Linked DNA regions of Homo sapiens: region 1 is linked to region 2. The links come from fine-mapping of genetic effects on gene expression. A gene starts in region 2. The other region holds a variant in brackets. All regions are shown on one strand. Distances are from middle to middle.

Region 1 (2,899 bases), 87 kb before region 2:
AATCCTCCAGGCACCTGCCAGAAATACTTCGAAGGTGGTACAGTAGCATAAAGTTAATTTCCAACCTTTCATTTTTAAGATAAGTGAATCTTTATCTGGGGTTTATCCTCTGCCCTTTATTCCTCTATCACAGATCAGAGGGTTTTGTGAATTTACAAAAGTATGCAATATTACTATTCCCAGTCCACTCTAGCAGACCACCCCTCTCCCAGGAACATATTCCAGGGGTGGTAGGACCCATCTCACTAGATCCGCATCTGTTCTCTGATGACATCCACCTGCTTCTACATCCTTTGTGCTTGAACTTTTTAACCAAGTCACCCTCTTAGTGAGGACTCTTCCTCTTTTCTGGTGTCCAAACATGTCACCCTTCCTGTTTTCCTCTGGAGTGTGCTCCGGAGTTGTTTCAAACCACCCCTCCCTCCCCACACCCCCCAAAAAACAAAACTACAAATGACAAGAACAATTGGAAAGTTCTTAAGGGATACTGGCTTTTGCTTTGTCTTGATATTTTCCACTTGTGGTCCAGGGCAGATAAAGAGGGAGGCCTTGTCAGCCCTGCGCTATGGCGTCTGCAGCGTTGAGCAGCTGCGTGTACTGGGCTTTCCTGCGTGGTGCAGACTACCCTGCCCAGGTGCCCCTGGTCCCAGGAGGGGAGGCTCGTGAACCCCGCAGCAATCTCGACTCCGTGTGCTCTGCCCCAGATCACCAGGTCCCTCCAGGAACCTGCAGCATTTCCTTTGCTGTTTGGGAATTCAAAATGGTTTCTCGAAAAATGTGAACAGGAAGGCAGAATTTATCAAAGAGGACTAGATGTAGCACGACCCTTGGATTCCCAGATTTCTGCTGCCACAGACTCATCACTTCTTTTTGCCCCTATGATGAGTTGAAGCTACATTTCGGAACACATGGCCCCAAAAAACAGGAGACGGGGTGAACATCATGAGGACGGTGATGACGTCTTCTATAAGCCTAGGTTACTGGCCCTGAGACGTGTCCTCTGCCCTCCTCCACTCCCACTCTGCCCTGTGTGATGTGGGAGGGAATTCCTCAGGTGAAGACAGGCTCGTCCCTGCCCAGAATTTCCCATCCGTAGCTGCACCGCGGTTAGACACTCAGCTTCCCCAAGCCCCGCATGTGCACCGTCAGTAAGTACCGGGACAGGAAGCAGAGGAAGGGAAGGATGCAGCCGCATTCAGTCCCAGAGAACAGCAGGCCCGGGTTACTCCTCTTTGGTGGCCGGGGCTGAAGGACAGTCTGTCTTATGGGGAAAACTCTCCTCCCCACGTTTTTCTGGGGGCCTCCGCTGAGCTCGCATTGGGAGAGCTGC[A/C]TGTGGAATGTGGGAAAGAAGAAGTCACCCATCTAAGCCAGCGTCTTCATTGGCTCAATGTTGGTGATCACTAATGCGACAAATACTGTGGTTGTATTGACCGTACATATGACAACATTCTAAACAACACAGGAGAACACAACGAGCAACAGTAAAAACTGGAGGGTCCCGCGAACGGAGTGGGTGGGCTGTGACTCCCACACTTTCCCTGCCCCTGGCCAGCCCCTCCTAAGCACCTGTGTGCTTTCCAGGTCAACACTGCAGAATGACCTGGCCAGACGTAACCAATAGGTGTGGTCCTAAACAGCTGGTACCACACTTCCCTGGCTCGTTCTTCTTCAGGTGGGGAGTTTTTCTGACCTTCCACTTTGGAAAGAGCAGGACTTGCTTAAAACTGAGTGCCGGCCAGCCCACACCCCCTGAAATAGATCAAGGGACTCATCACAGCCACTGCTCAAGTACTGGGAAGAGACATGACACCAGTGCACAAGTGCATTCTGAACCGTAATGACAAGCAGAGAGCAAGAAAGCCACCTGTCTCTTTAGAACATACTTTCCCTCAGGCCTGGGGCTCAGTAGAAAGAGACAGGAAGGTTCCGGCTGGCCTTCCAGCCCCCAGAGCTGCCCAGCCCAGCCCTGGCAGATGCGAATCGCCCCAGGAAAGGAGAGAGGAAAGAAGCCTTCCCCAGACCTCACCGTTCCTCATTCCAAACATCTTGTAAGTCCCAGGGGCACTGAGAGAGTTTGTCCGCAGCCAAACACAACTTCCTGTTTCTAAGAAAGGGAAGAAAAAAAATAGTTGAAAGGGTTTTTGGACACTGGAAATTTCAAGTTTCTGTAAACGCGAATGAATCAGACACATGTGGAATGAATTTCTCCGGAAGTAAGAAAAGATGCTGTGAGTTCCTCTTGCTGGACCAGAAAATAGGAAAAGGGTAGCTGCGGGGGAGGTGCGTCAGAGGCTGCAAGGAGAGAAGCCATGTGGACATGGGATGGAAGAGAGGGTCCCATCAGTGACAAGGTTCAACGAGGCTGCCCTGAAGCCACGTTCTGAAGCTGCTCATTACTCAGAACTGCTCCACCTCTGAAGTCCTACATCAAATCTCCTCCTCCTCAACCACAATCTCCCATCTTCCCAGATCTTTCCCATAAATGCATCCTTCCCCATGCCCTGACCGCCTCCGCACGTGTCCTTCCCCCATCCATCTTTCCTGCTCCTCTGTCTTCAGCTTTCCCTGAGCTGCTTGGACTCCACGTTCAGCGCCTCCACCTCAATCTTGCCAGTGTTCTCACTGCCCTTGCCCCACAGACTCTCTGTGCTGCTCAGCAGGCAGAGCCTCACACGGCACCCATTCCCCTCTCCCCACCTCTCACCTCTCACGTCATCCTGCTACAAGCAGATCCACACCCCGGGGGAATCCCAGCCCTGAGCACACTGGTGCCACCATAAAGTTACAGCGTTTGATGGAAACTGTCCAGCAACCCGAGCAGACCCCCTCTCAGCAATACCGATGGTTGTCCACAGAACTATTCTGCGCTTCCCATGCTCCTCCAGCTCATCCCCATGCC
Region 2 (2,899 bases):
TTCATTTCCACCCTGATTCTTGTCCAGTTGCTTACCACCTACATACATTCTCACACATTCCTCACCAGGGCCCCAGCTCATGCCCTTTCCTGAGCCCTGCTCTGTGGCCGCCAGTCCTCTCCCAGGTAAGCATTCCGCCTTCTTTCCCTTCCCCTCTTCAAAACTTAGTGCAAAAGTTTCTGGGCCTAGTTCGCATCTTTCTGATTTTTCTCATCTCTGAAATGGGAATAATAAGAATGATAGTGGGAATAATAATAGAAACCTGTGATAAAACCTGTGAATTACAGTTGCCGTAAGGATTAGATAACATTATACATGCTTGAAAACTTGTTGGAAACTGCGAAGGACTATAAAAACAGAAGTTGTTTTTATTGCCTTTATTCCTAAAGAAGATTGCAAGTGTCAGGGTGTTCAGGTGCTTGGCTGCTTGTCTCTCAGAGTGAATTAATGTGAGATGTTGCCAAGTGTTTCAAAAGGAAAATCCACTCTACTTCAGCGGGACGTCCACCCACCTTGCACAAAACCCTCTGGAAAGAAGTCTTTCGGTTTGCAAACTGGAGGCGTGGGAAAACAGAAAGCGCCCAAGGAGCACCTGCCCGCACCCCGCCCGCCCCCAGGCACCTGGGGCGCTGCCGCCTGCAGTCCCGGGAACCCCTATGACCTCCGGGGGCGGTGTGGAGAGCGCTCGCCCGCCTGGCCAGGGGAAGCCAAGACTTAGGGCCCTAGGAGTTAACTAGGTTGATTGATTTTGCAGTTGACCAAGAACTTCAAAACCCCCCGGGCGGTACCGGTTACTTCGGGGAGGCCCGCACACTTCCTCCGGGAAGGCCAGGAAGTAAGTGATGGTGCAGTAAAAATGACAGATTCACGGTTGTGGAAGAAGTAGGGTATATTTTTGGAGCAGCTCTAGCTGTCCCTGTGTTGGAAGAACGAGAGGGACCTGGGAGTCCGTTTCTCCACTCATCTCAAGAACCGCACGTCCTGCCAGGTCACCGAGGCAAGTGCTAGAACGGAAGAGAGCAAGCACTGCGAGGAGGCCCGAGGAGCCACGCAATCCAGACACCCGCCGCATGTCGCAGTCCGCCCAGGACGGGGGCGCGGGCTCACCTGTCTGCGGGGCGGCCCTTGGCAGGCCTGTTTCCATGGGTGAACAATGGGCACCTTACCAACTAACCTCCCTCGCCGAAGAGGGGCTGAAGTGTTTCTATTTCGACCTCCCTACAAAAACTACCCGAGAAAATAGGAGTTATGTTTTTAGTTCGAAGAAAAAAATAATGCTATAAATGTGACTCCTGCGGAGAAATGCTTCTCAGGTGTGAGAGGGGAACTGGGTAAGAGGACGGCTTAGAGGAAGGACAAATGGGACAGGGCTTATGGGGCATGTGAATGTAAATCGGCACATGTGCGCACATATGCAAAAATACAGTGTCAAGACTCACGGCCTTTCTGGGTCACGCAGGCTCCACCGTCTAAGGAGACGGAGTCACCAACAGTACAAGTCCCGACGGCCAAGAGGGCCCATTTTCTGCGCTTGCGCAATCATCACGTTTCCTTCCCCGCCCCGAGCCCCGCCCCCGAGCGCGCTCCGCCCCGCCCCCTTCTCCTCCCCTTCCCCAGCCAGGCCGCCGGCGCAGAGCATTGTGGGACACAAACAAAGTGCCCCCAAACAGGCTGGAGTGAGCGGAGCGGCAACGGCGGCGGCGCCGGCCGCACGCGCGCGGCGGCGGCTCCCTCCCAACCTCCCCCTCCCCTCCCCTCAGTCCCCTTCCCCTTCCCCACCCCGCCCCGCTGGGAACACGCGAGCCGTCGCCGCGCTCCCCAAACAACCGCCTGCCCTCGGCCAACCGTCCCCAACGGTCGCCAGCGCGCGGCTCCCGGGCCCCCTCGCTCCTCCCCTCTGGCCCCTCCGAGCGCTGGGGGTGCTTCCCTCCCCGCCTCCTCGCACTCCCACTCGCGGGCACGCCGGTGGCTGTGCCGCCATGCCCCACCACAGGCTGCTCACGGGCCTAGGCGCGGCGGCCCGAGATAGGGGCCCCTGAGCCTCCCGGGGGAGGAGAGAGGCAGCGAGCCGCGCTCCGCCCCCTCCCCCCGGGCCGCCGCCGCCGCCGCCTCGCCGCCCCAGCCTGGCGGGAGAAGGAGGAGGAGCAGCAGGCCTCCGGGCCCGGCGCCGCCGCCCGCAGGTAACGGGGAGGGGAGGGCGGGCTCCGGTCGCGCGGGGGACGGCCCCTGCACGCTGCCCGTGGCTGACACCGCGTGGCCCCCACCTGGCGCCGAAGGGAGCGGAGAGCCGGGTCTGTCAGCCTAGTCCGCGCCGGGAGACACCCCACGGGATCCCCTCGGTGGCATTTAATCCTTCTGGGAGGAGACCGGCCTTGGGCCCCGCGGTCCCGGAGCAGTTACCCCGACCTTCCAGGGAGCTGCCCGTCCTTTGCACGCCCATTTGCCCAACACCCTAACCCGGAGCGGCCGGAGTGTTGCCACCTCTCACCTGGTCGAACCCGGGAGGCTCAGACCTGTTTTTTTTCCTCCTTTCCCCTTCTGCTTTTTCTCTGGTACAGAAAGAAAAAGATGGCACTTCTTTAAAAAAATATATATATATATATATACACACACACAAACACACACACACATACACACACACACACACCTCTTTTCCTTTCCTTCCTGAGGATCACTCTGCATCTAGTCGTTTTATTGCTGGCCTAATCAGAAAAAGGGGTTACCTCGAGAAATGACAGGTACGTTAGAACTGATTAAAAGGAAATTGCGTCCATGTGAGTTCTATGAATCCAAGCAGAATTTACAATAAAACCCCGTAATTGTGTGCTTTTTTTTGGAACTTACAAAAATGAAGACAAAAACTTAATTTCTTTTTCAGCGTGTAAGTAGATAATCTCTT

Evidence for each region.
Region 1: its variant is fine-mapped to the expression of ZBTB44-DT in whole blood (TOPMed, PIP above 0.99). The same link has a PIP of 0.9 or more in adrenal gland, blood mononuclear cells, caudate, cerebral cortex, hippocampus and hypothalamus.

Annotation. Positions count from the first base shown.
Region 1 is chr11:130,400,215-130,403,113 of GRCh38, reverse strand. It overlaps ZBTB44-DT (ZBTB44 divergent transcript), which reads right to left. Exons shown (of 7, transcript NR_148980.1): 6 at 2,027-2,104. Among named protein-coding and RNA genes, the nearest start is that of ADAMTS8, 27 kb to the left of the region's middle. The variant A/C (reference allele first, on the strand shown) is at 1,331.
Region 2 is chr11:130,313,656-130,316,554 of GRCh38, reverse strand. It overlaps ZBTB44-DT (ZBTB44 divergent transcript), which reads right to left and starts at 1,562. Exons shown (of 7, transcript NR_148980.1): 1 at 1,440-1,562. It overlaps ZBTB44 (zinc finger and BTB domain containing 44), which reads left to right and starts at 1,638. Exons shown (of 8, transcript NM_001301098.2): 1 at 1,638-2,180. RefSeq lists silencers at 545-604, 1,515-2,344 and enhancers at 905-1,004, 1,175-1,274, 2,435-2,484.